Linked DNA regions of Homo sapiens: region 2 is linked to region 1. The links come from fine-mapping of genetic effects on gene expression. A gene starts in region 1. The other region holds a variant in brackets. All regions are shown on one strand. Distances are from middle to middle.

The links. PIP is the estimated chance that this variant, and not a neighbour inherited with it, causes the effect.
Region 2: its variant is the best candidate, but not a certain one, in a credible set for the expression of LINC00221 in whole blood (TOPMed, PIP 0.70).

The regions. Positions count from the first base shown.
Region 1 is chr14:106,480,340-106,485,718 of GRCh38, forward strand. LINC00221 (long intergenic non-protein coding RNA 221) reads left to right here and starts at 2,100. Exons shown (of 3, transcript NR_027457.2): 1 at 2,100-2,298. It also overlaps IGH.
Region 2 is chr14:106,535,508-106,540,886 of GRCh38, forward strand. It overlaps IGH and IGHV3-48. Among named protein-coding and RNA genes, the nearest start is that of LINC00221, 56 kb to the left of the region's middle. The variant A/G (reference allele first, on the strand shown) is at 3,219.

The DNA.
Region 1 (5,379 bases):
CAGTGGAGGCGCAGCAGCCCAAGGAGCGCGGCCCCCAGCGCCCGCGCCCATCCTGGAGAACTGCATCTGCGCAGGCCCAGAGCGTCCTCCTGGAGCAGGCGAGCCAGGATGGCGCCTCCTCGCTCCCAGCAGGCGCCCCCACGCGGCCCGTGCGGAGCCCAGCGACCAGAGCCGCGCGAGCCTGTGGGGAGCCTGTGGGGAGCCTGTGGAGGCCTGGGCTCCACCGCCTTCCCCACAGCCAGCAGCAGCTTGTGCCGCCCGCCTTCCCCTGGCCAGGTCTTCCTGCAGCTGGCGCCGGAGGCTGCGGAGGGAGGGCCCAAGGGTTCTTTTCAGAAGACTGGCTTTTTATGAATTTTAACACAATATGTACAAGCTGCGTTCGTTTAATAACGCTGCTTCCGTCATACACTGGCAACTTAACACCTGAAAAGATTAGATGTTATAAATAGGACTTGTTCATCCTTTATACACAGGATATCCATAGATAAATAAAACAAACACACAGACAGAAGAGATGATCATTAATCTCTCCTCCCGGTGCGCACAGAGGCCTGGAAGTCTGCACTTTCTCCTCCTCTCTCCTCCCCTGAACCAGAGCACAAACGCAATGTGTGTTGATCAAGCAGGGATTTGGCCATCCTCCCCACCCCCCACCAACATCAAAATAAAATAAAACACTGCATATGAATTTTAACAAAAAGATATTTACAAAATTTATTATTTTACCACCTGTAATTTTAACATACATCAGGCACTTCAGAACATCTAGAAAGACTAGATATTTCAAAAGAATACTTAGAATTTCCAATGATGTATACAATAGCGAGGAATAAAACGCACACAAGAAAACAATGACAATGATATGAAAATGTCTTCTAAATATGAGCAGCCTGGCATGGAACCCTCTTCCCTTCCTGCCCAGGTCTCCCCTCCATGTCCTCTCACCCACTGAACGAACGTGGACGTGTGGTTACTGTGTCCCTTCCAGGGGTGGTCTAATAACACCATTTCAAAATGTCATTTCCAGAAGACACCCCTTTGCTATGATTTTTTTAAAAAGCACATGGTAACTTACGGCCAGGCACGGTGGCTCACACCTGTAATCCCAGCACTTTGAGAGGCCAAGGTGGGTGGCTCACCTGAGGTCAGGAGTTCAAGACCAGCCTGGCCAACGTGGCAAAACCCCATCTCTACTAAAAACTACAAAAATTAGCCAGGCGTGGTGGTGCACACTTGTAATCCAAGCTACTCGGGAGGCTGAGGCAGCACAATTGTTGAAACTCAGGAAGCAGAGGTTGCAGTGAGCCAAGATCCTGCCACTGCACTCCAGCCTGGGCGACAGAGTGAGACTCCGTCTCAAAAACAAAAAACAAAAAAACGAAAAAAAACGGAAAACAAAAGACAAGCACATGGTAACTTACAAGACATGTAATTTTCTGACTCTGTCATACATTTGGGAACCTCCTTATATCTAGGCGGATTAGATGCAGCAAATGTTTTCTTTTAAAAGGTCAGGGAAAGGTCGAGCGGAGCTTTTTCATGTGTTACGCACAGGCCTTCTAGAAAGGGCTGGTAAAGTGTGGTGGGCATGTCCAGTGGGACAAACTTGGAAGGTTCTTCTCTGTTTCTCCCCATCCATGTCAAGGTCTTGTAGAAGAACGATCACCATCCGGTGGCCGCTACCCGTTCCCCACATCGTCTTCCAGGACTCTACTAACATTTCTTGCCCTAAGGCCTTTGAACCTTGCCAGGACTGGCAGGGTCCCTTCCAACATGGACAGGAGTCATCCCAGGATTCGGAGCTTCGGGGCTGCATGGCCTGAAGAGAAAGCGGATCTAAGTCCTAGACCCCGCTTCCTGGCGACCCCACGCGTCCCCGGAACTCCCACGTCCCAGCTGCCCCCTCGCATCCCTGGACCGCCCACAACCCGCCAGCCCCCGCGCGTCCCGGACCACCTGCATCTCAGCTGCCCCCGCGCCTCTCCAGACCGCCCACGTCCCAGCTGCCCCCTGGCATCTCCGATCGCCGACGTCCCGCCATCCCCCGCGCGTCCCCGGACCGCCCACGTCCCATCAGCCCCGCGCCTCCCGGACCGCCCACTTCCCGACAGCCCCCGCGCATCTCTGTGGCAGCTGCTCCGTGCTTCCCGCCCCGCCGCGCCCGCCCACCCAACGGCGCTGTGTCCCGCCGGTAGCTCAGCGGGGACTTCCTTTATGTGGTACAGGGTTGGGCCTGGAGACCCGGATGCCGGCGAGGTCCTGGCTGGGAGAGGCCGCCGCTGCCTTCAGGTTTCCGAGGTGGGTAGAGAGGTTCCCGCTGCTTTGAGGTCAAGGCTCCTCGGTGGCAGCCACAGCAAAGGCTCCAGTGTCCGCCGCAGGGCAGAGGCCGGGCCTGTCTGGGGACCCCCGACTCATCTGAGGCTCAGGGCGGAGGGTCCAGTGAACTGACCTTGCCCCGCTTCTCACCACGCGCCCAGTGTCACTGTATTCAGCCACCACTGCACAAAGGCGGCACAGCTCTGTGCCCTGAGAAGCCCCTCATTCCCTCAGTGACTCCACAGGGAACACCGGGTGGGCCCCTGGATTCACAGCCCTGTAGCACGCTGCCCAAGGGGCCCCCTTGCTCTCCCACCACCCAGAACACCGAGCCCGTTGTCAAGGCTGAACCATCCGCGGGCAGCTGGGACCAGGGAACATGGTGAGGGGCTCACGGCACCTGGCGTGCAGATCCCAGTAGCTGGATGCGGTTCTGCTAATCACTAACAGGCTTGCAGGCTTCCCCAGGAATCCACCCATAAACTTCACAGAACACCGTGTCTGTGAACCACCCAGTATGTGCATTCAGTTTCTAACCTCACTCTGGTCCGGAATCTGCCACCTGCAGGATCCAATTAACAAGAGAGAGATCTGGTACAAAGATTATTGTATTAACCATAATGGTAAAGGGGAAGTGACCGCATTCCCATCCCAAGCAACCACTTGAATTTTGAAGGAAAGGCAGGGGTTTAAAAAAGGAAAAGTTGGTAAGAAAGGCATGCAAGATTTGGGCTGAGAACCAGGTCTGTGCGTCTTGTTCTGGCGGCTCTCTGGCATCCCAGTCCACCTAGATCTTGGGCTGGCATCATCTGGGCAATGCCTGGGTTGTTAACTAGCAACATTGAAGTCACCTCTGGAATTCTGCATCAGGGTCTCCCGACTTTGTCTATCTGTCTCAAATTAGCTTCCGGAACTTCCAAAAAGGCACATAGTTCGATGCAAACATAAAGTTAGATTAATGTGAAGGGAATATTTATGGTGAAAGGGAGAAAGGTGGAGTCTATTTCAAGGCGTAAGAAAATTGATTCTGCTGTTTGCCTCAAGATTATATCTTTACACCCAAGAGAGACAGAAAAGTTTAACCTCTCTTCTGCCACCATGTATGACTGCCTTGCTTCCCCTTTTTCTTCTGCCATGATTATAAGTTTCCTGAGGCGTCCCAAGCCATGCAGAACTGTTTGGTGTGGAGATTACTGAAGAAGGGTTTTACTTACTACTTGACAGAATTCCCCTTGGTGAAGAGGAAATGTCAGAGATCTTTAATTCATGACGATGTTGGATTATTGGCAGTTGGCTCACTAAGGATCCCATGTCCAAGAGCAGGATTCTCCTTCCAAAGTGTGGGTGTGGACTTGAGGAGCAGCCTTTGAAAGATGGGGCCCCTAGAATTTATAGAACTTCCTTTGATTCCTTGGAGGTTTGCAGTCTCCAGGTTGTCTGTCATCCAGGACTTTGACTGTTTGTGTGAAAGAGTGCTTCCTTTTGGGTGAAGAATTCTGTATGAATATCCTAGGGCTGCCAAAATGAAATACTACAAACTGGGTGGCTTAAAAATGACAGGACTGTATTCTCTCACAGTTCTAGAGACTAGAAGTCCAAAATCAAGTGTGAGCTGGGCTGCACTCCCTCTGAGACTCAGGAGAATTCTTCCTTGCCCTTTCCTCACTTGTGGAGGTGACTGGTAATCCCGGACATGCATTGGTTTACTGCTGCACCACTCTGATCTTTGCCTCTGCTGTCATATGGCACACTGTATGTCTCTGTCTCTGTGTCCAAATTTCCTTGTACTTAGAAAGACACCCATCTTCCCACATTGAGGGCCTGCCCTGCTCAAGTAAGACCTCATCTTCACTAATAACATCTCCAGCTACCATATTTCCAAATAAGGACGTGTTCTGAAGTGCTGGTTGTCAGGACTTTGACATATCATTTGGGTACACAGTTTAATACATGACGAACCCCGTTACAGAGCTACCATGTCTAGTGTCTTACACATTTTGTTTGGAGGGGGAGGGTAAAAATAACAATGGACTCCTGTGTGTTCTCTGACGATAGCAATACCAATAGCTACCATGTAATGCCTATTAGTTGTTAGGTACTAAATATTAACTAATTTCATTCTTACAACAACCCTACTTTACATATGAGAAAACTGGGGTACAGGAAGTAACTGGCCCATTGTCCTCCAGTTAGCAGTGGCAGAGACGGTATACAAAGCCAGACTTCCCAGCTCCAGAGGCCGCATACTTAATACCACCCTGCCTTCTGGACAGTCAGGACAAGCAATTATGCCTGTGGTAAACATACTGTGCTGACAAGTAAGGTTACACTTGAAATGTGGCTTACAATGCAAGGTATAGAGATTACAGGCAATTCATGTGTTCTGGTTATTTGTTGCTATTAAGTCTGAATTAAAATGTAAGTGTGAAATTTCAGGTTTCAGGGAGTATAAAAAATAATATTAAAACCTCAAATACTAAGTTTAAAATGCATTTTGAAATTAAGCTGCCTGTATATCATTCCCCACTGTCAAATTCCATTTCGTTTCTATGGAAAACATGTGTCATAGTCATTCTGGCTACTTCTTTAGAAAGGGCATAGGTTGTATGTATTGGAAGGGAATCCATTAAACTGGAGTTGGAAATATTCTGGAGTCTCCGGAATTACAGTAGGTGTTTGTTGGAGCATTATGGTGCAAGGACCTAGGAGTTTTTGAGAAGGTCAGTATTACATTCTCACTTAAAGTGCAAGATAGCAATAAAATCCATAGCAATTGAAGATAGCAATGAACAGAATACCAGCTCTACTATATATGAAACTCTTCCATGTGTTAGGAAGTCAACTAAACCATGCTGTCATGGGGTTCTGAGAGAGGGCATCCATCTCTAGCAGAAATATGGGTATCTAATGCTTGCATAGCTTGAGTTATATTGTGGGACTAATCTTGTATATATATGCAACATTCAGTGTTCATTAATACACAAGTGTTACCTTTGGCTGTAGTTGCAATACCTAGGGTCATATAGCTTCATAGTGTCACTTGTCAAATCTGTGAGGTTTCTT
Region 2 (5,379 bases), 55 kb after region 1:
GGATTATTCATGAATTCCCCGGGCAATTCCCAAAGCTGAGGTTTCCTCCACTCTTTAGTTTCTAGGGAAACTTCCTGATGTTGCTATGGCATTTGTAAACTGTCATGGCTCTGTGGGGAGTGTCTTTTAGAATGTTAAAGCATAATACTTAGCATATAATGAGCAATGAGGACAAACAGAGGTCACTTTTGTCACCATCTTGGTTTTGGTGGGCTTCAGCCCAGTTTCTTTACTGTAAACTTTATTAGCAAGGTCTTTATGACCTGGATCTTGTGCAGACCTCCTATCTCATCCTGTGACTAAGAACGCCTTAGCTTACTGGGAATGTAGCCCAGCAGGTCTCAGTCTTATTTTTCCTACCCCTTATTCAAGATGAAGTTGTTCTGGTTCCAAAGCCTCTGACACAAATAATGTAACAGAAATATTTATAATATGAGCATGATTATATTGTCAAATATAAAATAAAATATCATAATGGCAACAATCAATTTTATGTGTCACCTTGACTAGACCACAGTCTCAACTACTCAATCACACACTAGCCTAGGTGTTGCTCCCATGGCTTAACACAGGTGTTAGTAGAGACTGCCATTATTTTTTCCCAGTCATGAAGTCACAAAGAGTGTTTTAGATAATCTAGGTGGTGCTGATTCAAAGAGAGTGTAACAGAAGACCATAGGACTCCGTGGTAGATGGCAGATGCAGGTCTTCCCAGGAATTCCAGCCTGTCTTTCCCGACGGCCAGCAGTATTGACCTTAGGCTGCCCGGGGAGACCCTACGATTACTGTCACCCAGAGCTCACTGCACAATGGAGTGTCCATCCTCAGCTTGTTGTAACCGAGCGAGTTAGAGAGAAACGCCGCACTTTGAGATGAATTCAGGAGTCCTTTATTAGCTGGCAACTGAGAGATGGCTAACGCTGGAAATTCTCTCAGCCCCGAAGAAGGTGCTAGATTTTCTTTTATACTTTGGTTTAGAGAGGGGAGGGGGAGCCTAACTGTAGCATTCTAACAGGAGTAAAACAGGCAAAAAAGTTGAAAGGACAAATGGTTACAGGCAAACAGTTCCAGGTGCAGGGGCTTTAAATTCATCACAAGATGATAGGTGTGGGGGCTCTGGGTGTTATCTGCCAGACACAAATGCAGGGGCTTTAGGGTACCATCACCTGGCCAAATTCCTGGGAACTGCGGACACAGCTTGCCACAGTACCTTATCAGTTAATCGCACTCTTTGAGATGCTGGGAGTCAGCTTAAACAAGTTAAGTCCTTGAGGAAGGGGGTGGGTGAGGAGCCCTTGATGTCTTACAAATGAAGGAGCCAAATGGAGTCTGTTCCAGCTTCCTGAGCTAAGGGAGAGTCTATTCATATTAAAACAAGATAAGGTATCACAAGCTCTCCTCAAAGTCACAGGTGAGAGTCCAAACTTTGTGACAGTGTGAGAAGCATAAGATCAGCTCTACATCAACATCCCATTGGAGAAAACTAGTATTATTCCCTTCATGACTAATGCCTGCTTCATTTTCCAAATGCCTCCATGCACAGAAGACAGCAGGATTTTCCAGGCAATAGTGAGTGAGGAAGACCCCTCAGCCTACCCAGCTCCTGCGGACCTGAGCCTTGGAATTTAGACTACAGAAAACACATCCTCTGTTTTCAGGAAAGAGAAGAAGAAAGGGATCTGTGAGAATCAAGTCTACTGGGAAGGAAAATGGATTAGCAGAAAGAGGGTCAACTGAATCAGTCTGAGTCAGATGTGCCCAGTTTCACAAGATGAAGGGGGATTGCTGTGAAAACCATCAGGTTTTAAGAACCCTGACCCTGGGTGAGCCTCTCTCTTGGCTCCCATCAGAACTCAAAGCCTGTTCTAATCAGAGATTCCCATGGAGGTCTCTGCCCTGAGTCTAATTGGAAAACATTCCCCAGGTTTCCCTGGGATTCCTCAAAACTCTCACCCTGTTGACCACGAAAGGATTATTTCTGCCCCCAAAGTGACACTGTGGCTTCTGTGGAGGTGAGGATGTGTCCTCCTGTTTTAAAAAAAAAAAACAGACACAAAAAGGAAAAAAAAGGTTGCATTTAGAGACATCAAATATTAGTACAGGATTGTAAATCTGGAGAAGTTCCCCGGGGAAATTTGACAATGAGGCCGCCCCAGGCCATCACAGGAAGCCAGCCCTCAGCAGCACCTGCACCTGCCCTGGAGACAGCCCCGTGCTCAGTGTGCTGTCGCCCCCTGGTGGTCCCAAGGGACCCCTGCAGGGAGGTTTGTGTCTGGGCTCACACTGACTTCCCCTCACTGTGTCTCTCGCACAGTAATAAACAGCCGTGTCCTCGGCTCTCAGGCTGTTCATTTGCAGATACAGTGAGTTCTTGGCGTTGTCTCTGGAGATGGTGAATCGGCCCTTCACAGAGTCTGCGTAGTATATGGTACTACCACTACTACTAATGTATGAAACCCACTCCAGCCCCTTCCCTGGAGCCTGGCGGACCCAGTTCATTTCATAACTACTGAAGGTGAATCCAGAGGCTGCACAGGAGAGTCTCAGGGACCCTCCAGGCTGTACCAAGCCTCCCCCAGACTCCACCAGCTGCACCTCACACTGGACACCTGCAAACAAAGAGACACCAAGGTCAGAAACTGCCACACATATCCACTGTTTCTCTCACTCATATCCACACACACTAAATCTCTCTAGTTTTCCATGAATCACCTTCTAAAATAGCAACAAGGAAAACCCAGCACAGCCCCAACTCCATGGTGAGTCCTCTGTGTTCAGTGCTGATCACCAAGTGGAAATGCCTTGGAATCCAGGGCTAAGGCACCTCTCTGAGAGCTGCAGGGTCAGGGTTGGGTTGGTTTTCATCAGTAGAGGGAGGGCCCTATTTGCATATCTCCTACTATATAGCAAGCTCTAGGGTGGGACCCTTGAGGAGTAGGCTGTACCCAGATAAGACGACGGTGCCCTGTAGAAGTTTGCTGGCAATGATTGCATTTGGAAAATATGCTGTCTTATTATGAAATTGTGCTGTGATAAACACTTTGCACTAATCACCCTATTTCATTTTAAATATTCATGTAAACTATGTTCTGTAGGAGACAATATTTTCTCCATTTACAGAAGTGGAAGTAAACCCACACATGGGGGGGCTCTGTATGCGTCTCGGAGCTCATGTCTGGGATGAGTGAACCCCGGTATCTGGCCCTGTGCTCTTCATC[A/G]CTGTCTCTGACATCCCCCTAAACCAACTCCAGGACAAAGCTGGATGTGTCTAGTGTTTTTATCAGAACCCACATTCCGTAATAAGAGCATGTGTGGTTTTGCTGCCCTCCAGCACTCTTCTGAAAATATGGAGAGAACTAGGATCCAGGCACATTAATTTTCAGGTACTTCTGACATTGAACTTATTTTTTCTGTCTTTCTATTACTCTTTCCTTGTCTAAGTTTCCATTTGTTTGCTTGTAAGACATTTTATGAGGCTTAATTGAAAGATAATAAACTTCACATATTTAAAATGTACAACTAATAAAAATGATGTAACTGCTATCATTACCAAGAAAGTGGACAAGTGAATTCTTCTCAACATTTCCCCTTGTTCTGCTGTATTCCTCCTCCTCTCCCCCTCCCTTCTTCTACCATTACCCCAGGCAACTACTTATCTTCATTATTTTACTTCAGATGCATTTTTATTTATCAGAATTTATAAAAATGAAATTACATAGTATATATTCTTATTTGTTTAGCTTATTTTACTCAACATAAATACTTAGATATTTTACCTTGTTGCTCTGTGTATCAGGCATTAATTTATTATAAATGACGGGTAGTATTCCAGTGAACACATTTACCATAATTTGTTTTTCTATTAAGAAGCTTAACAATATTTGTCTGGGCGGCAAGCCACCCAGGTGCTGAGGCAAGAGACTGAGGGCACAAGCTGTTCCAGTGTAATGAAGAGAATATGTAAAATAAGAATAGTTGTACTAGAAATAGGTTATAGATATGATTATATATGAATATCATTAATCATCAGTCTGTAGCATTACTCTTTATTCCAACATTATAATAATCCTTGCTCTACAATTATAACCTAGGAAAAACCAGGCCATACAGCAATAGGAGCTGAAGGGACACAGTGAGAAGTGACCAGAAGACAGGAGTGTGAGCCTCTGTCACGCCCGGACAGGGCCACTAGAGGGCTCCTCGGTCTAGCGGTAGCGCCAGTGCCTGGGAAGGCACCCATTACCCATTACTTAGAAGACCTGGAAAGGGAGTCTCCCTTTCCCCGGGGGAGTTAGAGAAGACTCTGCTCCACCACCTCTTGTGGAAGGCCTGACATCAGTCAAACCTGCCCGCAGCCCTCCAGAGGCCTAAACGTCTCTCTGTGATGCTGTGCTTCAGCGGTCACACTCCTGTTTCACTTTCATGTTCCACTCTGTACACCTGGCTCCGCCCTCTAGATAGCAGTAGCAGAATTAGTGAAAGTATTAAAGTCTTTGATCTTTCTGAGAAGAGAATGGAATAAATAATGACCTAAGCTGTCCTCTCTCTCTCTCCGCCTCGGCTGCCAAACAGGGAAGTGCCCTCTGTCTGGTGGACACGTGACCCACATGACCTTATCAATCATTGCAGATGACTCACACTCCTTACCCTTCCCCTTTTGCCTTGTATCCAATAAATAACAGCGGAGCCAGGCATTCGGGGCCACTTCTAGTCTGTGTCTTGGTGGTAGTGGTCCCCTGGGTCCGGCTGTTTTTTCTTCTATCTCTTTGTCTTGTGCCTTTATTTCTACGATCTCTCATCTCTGCACATGGGGAGAAAGATCCACAGACCCTGTAGGGCTGGCCCCTACATATTTGCATTCTTTTTTTACTCTGGGTCTTATTAAAAATTCTTCTACACAGCTTGGAAATGTACATAGATGAATAATATATTTTACTTATGTTTTACAACAACAGTATCAACAAAAATAGATAAACAGAGGAGCTGGAATTTTGGAATTTTTTTTTTTGAGACAGAGTCTCACTCTGTCGCCCAGGCTGGAGTGCAATGGTACGACTTGCAAACTCTGCCTCCTGGGTTCAAGCTATTCTCCAGTATCAGCCTCCCAAGTAGCTGGGATTACAGGTGCCTGCCACCATGCCAAGCTATTTTTTTTTTGTATTTTTAGTAGAGACAGGTTTTACCATGTTGGCCAGGGTGGTCTCAAACTCCTGACCTCAGGTGATCCACATACCTCAGCCTCCCAAAGCGTTGGGATTACAGGTGTGAGCCACCACAACTGGCCATTTTTTAAAAATAATACTTTAGATACTTGAAGTTTTAAGATAAACAGCAAATGTGAAATCTAGGGAGAGGCAAGTTCTTGTAAAGAGTAACAAA